Linked DNA regions of Homo sapiens: region 2 is linked to region 1. Evidence: fine-mapped expression QTL. Tissue or cell type: whole blood. Region 1 holds a variant in brackets; the other region holds the start of a gene. All regions are shown on one strand. Distances are between the middles of the regions.

Region 1 (5,374 bases):
GGGCGCCAATGCTGTGAGCCTCATCCAGATACAAGTATGCCTTGTATTTCTTCTTGAGGGCAATCACTTCAGGAAGACGAACAATAGATCCCTCCATGCTGGCAAAACATGAAAAAATATATATATACACATATACACTGAGACTTTTTAAATCAAAATTGGGAGTTTGGCACTTCATTATTATTGAGTTTACTGCTTCTTTTTTTTTTCTTGGGACAGAGTTTTGCTCCATTGTCCAGGCTGAAGTGCAGTGGCATAATCTCGGCTTACTACAATCCCTGACTCCTGGGTTCAAGCGATTCTTGTGCCTCAGCCTCCCAAGTAGCTGGGACTAGAGGTGCCCGCCACCACCACGCCCAGATAATGTTTGTATTTTTAGTAGAGATAGGGTTTCCTCATGTTTCCCAGGCTAGTCTCGAACTCCTGGCCTCAAGTGATACACCCGCCTTGGCCTCCCACAGTTCTGGGGTTACAGGAATAAGCCACCCTGCCCGGCTGAGTTTATTGGGTTTTAAATGGTCTGACAACTGTATCTGTGGCTTAAACTGACAAAGGTAGATGAAGCCATGGCAAGGCAAAAGACTAGGGGAAAGAAAACTGGACTTTTAAAACAAGCACTGGCTGGGCGCGGTGGCTCACACCTGTAATCCCAGCACTTTGGTGGGCTGAGGTAGGCGGATCACTTGAGGTCAGGAGTTCGAGACCAGCCCGGCCAACACAGTGAAACCCCGTCTCTACTAAAAATACAAAAATTAGCTGGGCTTGGTGGCACACACCTGTAATCCCAGCTACTCGGGAGGCTAAGGCAGGAGAACCGGGAAGCGGAGGTTGCAGTGAGCCGACATCCCGCCACTGCACTCCAGCCTGGGTGACACAGCGAGATTCCATCTTAAAAAAAAAGCCACCCAAACCACCAAAAAACAAAAAACAAGCACCAAACACAAGCAATCTTAATTCACGACAAAAATAATTAAGGTCACAGCAGATTCTTCTAAAGCTTGTAATTACAGGCAACATGAGACTTTGCATCACGTTGCACAGGCAATTAAAATGACACAAAAGAACAAAAAAAATTAGGTGGTAAAAATACGTGTAAAAGCTGTAAAGGTTAACCAAAATAAAATATTTCTTTTTAATTTTTATTTATTTTTTACAGAGACAGGGTCTCACTATGTTGCCCAAGCTGGTCTCAAATTCCTGGCCTCGAGCGACCTCCCACTTTTGCCTCCCAAAGTGTTGGGATTACAGGCGTGAGCCACTGCACTCAGCCTAAAATAAAATATTTATTAAAATTAAATGGTGTGTAATTTGTTTTGACATATTAAAATATATATTCCAATTCTTGCCCCTACATATAGGTTCCCTCTACAAACTAGAAAAATAAAAGACTCAAATAGAAAGGGGATTTGGTGACCATGTAGTATTATGGAAAGAATAACGAAGAACTAGACAAAAAGACTTCTGTTCTAATGCTGACTCTGTTTCCAGGTATTTTAGCGACTTATAAACACTGTCTCCTTAGTTTCCAGAGGGGGATAGACTAATGTTCCCTTCAGTTAAAAAATTCTATGACTTCATGGGGCCAAGTCACAAAGGTAAGAATAATAAAGCAGGATTACCTATATATTCCTTCCACAAGGATGAGAATTTTCTTCCAGGGCCTTCGTGTCCGAGGCTGACCATAAACAATGGCATCTTTCAATAGCTTCTCTAGGCTTTGCATATCTACAGAGCACAAAAAAGAACAGTTATACCGCATCTTCCTCTTTCCTAACTTTATTCCGGAAATGCAGAGATATATTTCTCATTCAGAAACCATGCCTCAGATAGCAAAGGACATAATTAGAGTTGGGCAGAAAAAAGCAGGGCAAAATAGGTGAATTATTGCCACCTTGAATTGAAATCCAAAATGTAACAAATGTTCAAAACCATCGAAACTTGACTAAAGGACGGTGGTGGCTAACTCAGTTCATTAGCTTCCTTATAAAATGACCAGTGTCTCATGTTAAATACCCTGCCATTAAGTTAGCTTCTGTGTGTTTATCGAAAAATACAGAATCAAACTGTATCTCTAATCCCAGTGAGTCATTCGGAAATAAATGCGTAAAAAAGACAGAGCGAGAGAGTGTGAATAAACCATCACAGACACATACTCCTCCTAAAAAAACAAACGCAAGGCGTAAAAAAACTTCACAGTGCGTGCTCCATTTCCTTTCACCCAGGACGTACTCAATAAACGCTTGTTAAAGAGTTTTATTTTGGTACTGGGTTAAAAATACACCCGTCTGGGGCATGTATAAGTCTGTGTGTTAAGCAAGCCTGACAATCAGTTGAAATTGTTCCATGTTTGACTTCATCAGTTGTCCATAAACAACCAAGTTCTTGTGGCTCTGTTGGTTCTTATGGTGGTTAATGGGCCTGGAAACAACTTGGCTGCTACTGCCATTAATGATGATCATAATTTCCTTGTTAAAGACAAATGCTTTGAAGACCATTGTTGCCACACTACAGATTTCATACTTAAAATACCTGCCCTGAAATGAAGTCCTTAAAAAAAACTCCCCCAAATTTAAGCAACATTAAGTCTGGGGAATACTTAATAGGGGTGGGAGACATCCTATCATAAAATCTTTTTTTTTTTTTTGAGATGGAGTCTCCCTCTGTCATCCAAGCTGGAGTGCAA[T/C]GGTGTGATCTCTCCTCACTGAGGCCTCCACCTCCAAGGTTCAAGCAATTCTCCTGCCTCAGCCTCCCAAGTAGCTCGGATTACCAGCACCCGCCATCACGCCAGGCTAATTTTGTACTTTTGTAGAGACGGGGTTTCACCATGTTGGCCAGGCTTGTCTTGAACTTCTGACCTCAGGTGATCCGCCTGCCTCGGCCTCCCAAAGTGCTGGGATTACAGGCGTGAGCACCACGCCTGGCCCTATCATAAAATCTGATTTTGTATTCTGTATTGCTTGTAACTGGAGGAAGGAGTTATAAAAGTACATGATTTTGCTCTTTGCAGAAAACAATTTTGACAGAAAAAGAGATAAGGTAATAAAAACACAGAACACAAACACAAATAAGATAGTCTAAGGTTGTGACTGTGCTTACACATTCAGTAATTTCTAAGAAAAAAATCTGCATACGACCTAATCAAGATTCAGGAGATGTTCCCTACAGAAGTAAATTACGTCCTGACTCAAAGCCTCCAGTTTTTTTGTTTTTTTTTTTTTGAGACAGAGTCTTGCTCTGTCGCCAAGGCAGGAGTGCAGTGGCGTGATCTCTGCTCACTGAAACCTCCGCCTCCTGGATTCAAGTGATTCTCCAGCCTCAGCCTCCTGAGTAGCTGGGATTACAGGTGCATGCCACCACATCCAGCTAATTTTTGTATTTTTAGTAGAGGTGGGGTTTCACCATTTTGGCCAGGCTGGTCTTGAACTCCTGACCTCAGGTGATCTGCCCTCCTTGGCCTCCCCAAGTCCTGCAAAGCCTCCAGTTCTTAGGCAGAGAGCAATGTATGGCGATCAGCTGAAGACAAGTAAAAACACAGGAATTATTTTAGTTTTCTCTGTTTATATATAGAAGGAGGAGAAAAATAATACTGGTCAAAATTTTAGATAAAAGAAGCATCAGCCAGGTGTGGTGGCTCACGCCTGTAATCTTAGCACTTTGGGAGACCGAGGCGGGTGAATCGCTTAAGGTCAGGAGTTCGAGACCAGACTGACCAACATGGCAAAACCCTGTCTCTACTAAAAATACAAAAAAAATTAGCCGGTTGTGGTGGTGGGCACCTGTAATTCCAGCTACTTGGGAGGCTGAGACATGAGAATCGCTTAAACCCAGGAGACGGAGGTTGCAGTGAGCCAAGATCACGCCACTGCCCTCCAGCCTGGGTGACAGAGCAAGACTGTTTCAAAAAAAAGAAATACCTATAGCAGAATGCTTAACCATATTATCTACTTAGAAAAAAAAATTCAATCTCTCCAATGTTATGCCCCCAAATTCCACATAAATTTAAATAAAAAATATATCGCAAAACTCCCAGAAGAAAACATGAAAGAATAACATTATGATCTGAGAATGAGGAGGGTATTGTGTAAAATCCGAAAGTCGTAAAACAGTAAGTGTGGCAACAAAAACATTTTCATGAGTCTGTACAGGAAGACACTGAAAACAAAGTCAAAAATATAAAAATAGTGCAGTCTGGGCATGGTGAATCACTCCTGTAATCCCAGCATTTTGGGAGGCTGAGACAGCAGGATCGTTTCAGCCTAAGAGTTCAAGACCAACCTGGGCAACACAGCGAGACTTTGTCTCTATAAAAAATAAAAAACACTAGTCCGGCATGGTGGTGGATGCCTACAGTCCTAGCTACTCAGGAGACTGAGGCAGGAGAATCATTTGAACCTAGGAGGTCAAGGCTGTGGTGAGTTGTGGTTCTGCTACTTCACTCCAGCCTGGGTGATGCAGCAAGACCCTGTCTCAAAAAAATAATAATAAAATAATGCAACATAAAGGAAAAGATAATTAATATAAAGGGCTCTTATAATCAGTAAAAAATAGAAACAATTTGAAAATGGCCAATTTATAAAGAAATACAAACACATTAGCTTACAAGTAGAGTTAAAAAAACAGTAAAAATGCAAAAAGTTGTTCTATATCTAATAAGCAATGAAATAAAAACTAACATATTATTTCCTCATTAGATTTGGAAAGATTTAAAATGATTCACCATAGCCTATGTTGGCCAGTGAGTAGGAACAGTCAATCTCATGTTGTTGAGGAAAAATTCATACAAGATGCAAGCATGTGTATGTTCATTGTAGCACTATTCACAACAGCAAAGACATAGGATCAATCTAAATGTCCATCAACAGTAGACTGGATTAAAAAAATGTGGGCCAGGCGTGGTGGCTTATGCCTATAATCCCAGTACTGGGAGGCCAAGGTGGGTGGATTGCTTGAGCCCAGGAGTTCAAGACCAGCCTGGGCAACATGGTGAAACCCCATCTTTACAAAAAATACAAAAAGAAAACACAAAAAACAAAAAACAAAAAACTTGGCCGGGCGTGGTGGAACACATCTGTAGTCCCAGCTACTAGGGTGGCTGAGATGGGAGGATCGGTTGAGCTGGGGAGGTAGAGGTTGCAGTGAGCTGAGTTCATGCCAATGCATGCCAGCCTGGGAGACAGAGCAAGACTCTGTCTCAAAAATAAAAATAAAAATATATATATATATATGTACATATACACCATGGAATACTATGTAGCCATAAGAAAGAATGAGATCATGTCCTTTGCAGCAACATGGATGCAGCTAGAAGCCATTACCCTAAGCAAACTAATACAGGAACAGAAAACCAAATACCACATATTCTCACTTGTAAGTG
Region 2 (5,381 bases), 130 kb before region 1:
GAGAAGCCACAAATTAGGCATTTTCTCCTGATCACCTGAGGCTGGCTTGAGGAAAGGGATATCTTAGGTGAACTGCAATGGCTTTTCTTACCCCTGTAAATGCAGCTGTTCTTGGATTTGTACCTCTCCAGGGCACTACAATTTCTTAAGTGCTTGCTGGAGGTTTCATAAAGGCTTTTTGGACCATATATTGTTGTTAAGTTAGTGTCTCGAGGTTACAGAGTCTGGAGCTTCCTATTTCTTCATCTTACTGATACCAATCTGAGACAGATGTCAATTTTTATTGCTATTAGATGTGAGTGCATTCCTTTCCTACGATACACCCACTCTTTCTAGTTTGCTATTTCAAATCTGCAGACTTGAGAAACCAGATAACTTGGCTTTTTAAGAAGGTTATGACTTATACACATAAATGGTTTATAAAAACAAAACAGTGTTCATTCAGGGTACAACTTTAAACTACAAAAACAAAACAAAAAAGAACAGAACTGAGAAACTAAGGATGAAGATTTCAGACCACTATTTCCAGAGGTTCACTTACTGTTGGTGCTGGATGTGTTTCCTTGGCGCAAGATTAACAAAGTCAGACTTCTGAATACATAAGGTATACTTTCGTTGCTATATGACAGCCTTATATTTGTTCTGTATTTCTGTAAAAACCAGTGTCTTAAAGCTCTGGATTTTGCTTCTAAGCAACATAAGTCACTCTCTATTTAAGCCTTCTCTCCTGGTTGAAAGAGCATTTTCTCTTAGTGCCTGATCCTTCCAAATATAAAATGCCACCTGCAAGTTTCATATATTGTTTTCTCCCAGTCATATTGAGTACCACCAATAGGTTTATGCATCCTTATCAGTAAGCCAGTCAGTAAATTCACTGAGAAGCCTGCCTCCTTGGACATGTGCTGTATCTATAAACATGTTCAATTCAAATTTGGTCCCACCATCTAGGAATTAATCTAACTTCAGAGAAAAACTAAGAAGTAGAGTGAGGAGGTGACATATGCTCCCAGAGTGACCTGGAGTTGCAGAATTCAGAAGCCTAATTATAGGTACCTGCTTCACACACATTTCCTATTTAAGTGTCTGAAGCCATATTGTAGAAAGATATCAGAATCAAGACTGGACTGACAGCTTTTCTGCAAATCAATATTCCTGGTTTCAAGGAAGTCACTGGCACAGGGCCTGTGAAGTCCCGGGTAGCTTCCTGTAAGGGAGCATTCCACTATTACCTCAGCCCCAAAAGAAAGAACTGATTCCATTTGCATTCCTTGCCAATAGATAAGGAATGGCTAGACATTAGCAACTGTGGAGGGCAAGCTGGTGGTCATGATGACTGAGTGAATGGATGAATAAATGATCATTTAATCAATCCATCCACTAAAAGGTAATCACTACTAATCCATGCTTTATTATGTAACCACAGCCAGGGGACCCTGGTATAGATTTTCCTGTCCTTTTAGACCAGGAGTCATTGACTCTGGGTTGGAAAAGATAGGATGACAATCCACCAGCCAAACTTACCCTCCAATATAAAAAAAATTTAAGACATTTGAATTCTCAGCAGTGAGATTCTTGTCCATCTTCCTGAATTTGGATACTCGGCTTACCTCAAATTATATAATAGTTTGCAGAAGAAGGTTGCATGGGCACAAGCCTCGATCATCAGTCCCCGAGAACGGCCCTGCAAATACAGCCAGATACGATCTTCCTCTGGAACCCCATACTCAAACTGCAGGGACTCAAGGTCCTGGAGCATGTCCATTTCCAAGCCACTATTTCCTGCAGTGATAGACACTAATCAATTTGGCTCCCTGTCCCGGTAGAAGAGGGGTCTATGTAGGAGGTGTGTGTATGATGGTGTGTGTGCCCAGGTCACAAGCACTCATGATGATGGGCTTCAGCACCTCTCTACTCCCAGATTCTGAATTTGGAATTCACCTCTCTTGAATTCACACTCTAGAGTGTGAGTGTTTGAGGATTCCTAATCACTGGCTGCCCATGAATCCTGGACTCATGAAAAACCTGTACAGAAACCCAAAGTATTGTTTCTCCACACAGGTTACAGGCACTGTTTTCGGCAGATGAATTTACAACAGCAATTGAGTTTTACAGGTATTCTTGGGCCAGGACGTTTTCCCTTCCATTCCCTCCTGCGTTTTGGAAATAGGACTGAACACATAGAACCACATTTCAAAGAAATGCTTCCCTTTCACTAAACTCTGTTCTCCACAGGGTACAAAATAACCCAAACTAAATATCATTGTCCCCTGTCTAGGGCAGGGACATCTAGATTTTACAAACTAAACTCAAAGTCATATAAACCCATCTACATATATCTATCACCAAACAGAGAAGATTGGCTCTGCTCCTCAGTACTTCTGATCCTGGAAGGTAAGAACTACATTTCTAAGGAGAATTACCAAGAAACTTGTGATTATGACTCCTTAACTACCAGATTACAGTCTCTAAGTCTTAAAGAGGCCAGCCCCACTTAGAGGTTTTCCTGAGCTGCGTATCAGGACATGAGTTCCTTCCACTATTTCTAGGAGTACTACACTAGAGCAGTATGAGACCCTCCTTTTCCCAACAGAAGATTCTGGATTTCTAGGGGTTTTTTTTGCAGACTAGAATATCTTACAGATCTTAGCACTACTTGAGTTAGTTTACAACTCCTTCTTTTTGTGTTCAAGAAACCAATAAAATTTTTTCAGGTGAAATCCACATAACATAAAATTAGCCATTTTAAAGTGAACAATTCATCAGTACATTCAGAATGTTGTGCCACCACCTCTATCTTGTTGCAAAATACTTTCATATTCCCAAAAGGAACGCCTACACCCATTAAGCAGTTACTCCCTATCCCTCCCCACCCTCAGCCTCTGGAACCACCAATCTGCTTTCTGTCTGAATGGATTTACCTATTCCAGATATTTTATATAAATGGAATCATACAATATGTGACCTTTTGTGTCTGGCTTCTCTAATCCCTTTTATAGGAAGGCTGTTATATGACGACACCATCTCTTTAAAAGCAAAGTCTCACCCTGGCGTGGTGGCTCACGCCTGTAATCGCAGCACTTTGGGAGGCCGAGGCAGGCGGATCGCTTGAGGTCAGGAGTTTGACCAGCCTGACTAACACGGTGAAACCCCATCTCTACTAAAAAGCTGGGCATGGTGGCAGCTACTTATTAGCTGGGTGTGGTGGCACGTCTGTAATCTCAGCTACTCAGGAGGCTGAGGCAGGAGAATTGCTTGAACCTGGGAGATGGACGTTGGTTGCAGTGAGCTGAGATTGCGCCATTGTACTCCAGCCTGGGCGGCAGAGGGAGACTCCATCTCAAAAAAATAAAAAATAAAATAAAGTAAAAGCAAAGTCTCTGCACTTGAAATGAGGGGCATGGACGTTCTCATCAAACCTAAGAAACATTTTCTTACACCAAAACAGTCAGTAGGTCATCCTAATGTTGCCAAGTAATGCTTCCTGCTCCGAAGGAAAAAGAAGCTCAAAACCTAGATTAGCATGACCAATGCAGCATACAAGTTGTACAGACATGAATTCTAGGCCTATCCTTTACTTATGCATTCTCAAAAGTGGGGATCAGTTGTTATATTTTGTATTATGTCACCTTGGCTAGGCTGAACTGCAATTTCCAGAATGTCCTTCCCTGTATGTTTCCAGTTAAGGTGGACCACCAGAGATATTTCTATGCAAGATCAGGAGGGTGGAAATGAACAGTAACCAGTCTGTGTTTCAGTGTGCATAATCAGGGGAAGTACTTTTGTAGTTCACACATGTTGTTGTTTATCTGCTGAGTACCTTGTTGGTGAGGGGCAACAGTTGGGCCTGTAACTGCTACATCTTCCCTGGTTCCTTCTTCAGTTGCTCACTCCTGGGCCAGGTGTTTTTCATTTCCATGACAAAGGCCACTAGCTTTTCCAGCAGCGGGACACCCACCTCATCAAGGTTTGAGGCTGTGAGAACTGACATGGGTCCCAGTCCCTTCTCATGGTTTCTAGCTTGTCCCTGCTCACTCACTTTATAATGATCTTCCCTTCTTCACGGCCTTCCCTATGGATTTCAAGCTCTACCACTGGACATGAAGACAACTACGTTAAACACACCCTCCAGCTGCCATACTTGAGTGGAAGTACTCAAACAGAAAAGACAGGCTCTACTCCTCGGTACTTCTCATCCAATTTCTCTAAACAGGTCAGAGAAAGGTCAAAATTCTCTAACAAACAGCAGATATAGATTAGATTAGATTAGATTAGATAATGCATATATATGCCTAGTGGTTCTGCTTCTCTAAATGAACCCTAACCAATATACTAGTTAATAAAGTAACCACTGTTTGTTTGAAGATGAACCAATAATTTTAGTACAATCTAGCAAATTAAACTCTTGTTTCTTCAATAGCAAGAAGGATGATCAAGAAAGGAACTAAATATGAGGTTACCTGGAATTGCAAAGTGGAGGAGCAAAAGATGGAGTCTGATCCCCTTAAAGCAGTTTCTCAACACTGGTGTTGCTAACATGTGGGCAGGATAATCCTTTGTTGTGGGGCTGTCCTGTGGATTGTAGGGCGTTTAGCAGCGTCCCTGACCTCTACCCACTGGATGCCAGTAGCACGCCTAGTGTGGCAACAGAAAGCAACTTCGAACATTGCCAAATGTCTCTTGAGGGGCAAAACTGCCTCCAGTTGAGAGCCATATTGCCTTAAGGCATGGCATGTGCCTCTGTAGGAGCATCTTCTCTTTGCCTTCTATGACTTCACCCACTCCACAGTCACAGGAGCACAGAACTCTACAAAATGTTAGCTGGGTGTGGTGGCACGTGCCTGTAGTCCCAGCTACTCAGGAGGCTGAAGCAGGAAGATTGCTTGAGTCTGGGATGTCAAGGCTGCAGTGAGCCATGACGGTGCCGCTGCACTCCAGCCTGGGTGACAGACCATGTCTATTTAAAAAAACAGGCCGGGTGCGGTGGCTCATGCCTATAATCCCAGCACTTTGGGAGGCCAAGGCAGGCGGATCAACTGAGGTCAGGAGTTTGAGACCAGCCTGGCCAACATGGCGAAACCCTGTCTCTACTAAAAATACAAAAATTAGCTGGGCGTGGTGGCAGGTGCCTGTAATCCCAGCTACTTGGGAGGCTGAGGCAGGAGAATCATCTGAACCTGGGAGGTGGAGGTTGCAGTGAGCTGAGAGCGCCACTGCACTCCAGCCTGGGCGACAGAGCGAGACACCATCTCACAAACAAACAAACTCTACAAAATTTTAGATTATCTAATGAATCCAGAGAAAGAAAGGGACTCACCCAGCATCACATAACTATTTAGTGGTAGAGCTGGAAAAAGTCAGGTCTTGTGTCTCCCAGCACCGTG

What was found. PIP is the estimated chance that this variant, and not a neighbour inherited with it, causes the effect. A credible set is the group of variants that fine-mapping cannot tell apart.
Region 2: it holds the start of NOXRED1, and the variant in region 1 is the best candidate, but not a certain one, in a credible set for the expression of NOXRED1 in whole blood (INTERVAL, PIP 0.72).

The regions. Positions count from the first base shown.
Region 1 is chr14:77,555,422-77,560,795 of GRCh38, forward strand. It overlaps SPTLC2 (serine palmitoyltransferase long chain base subunit 2), which reads right to left. Exons shown (of 12, transcript NM_004863.4): 7 at 1,620-1,725; 8 at 1-98. Among named protein-coding and RNA genes, the nearest start is that of SPTLC2, 59 kb to the right of the region's middle. The variant T/C (reference allele first, on the strand shown) is at 2,684.
Region 2 is chr14:77,421,128-77,426,508 of GRCh38, forward strand. NOXRED1 (NADP dependent oxidoreductase domain containing 1) reads right to left here and starts at 2,396. Exons shown (of 6, transcript NM_001113475.3): 1 at 1,608-2,396. The coding sequence starts at 1,762.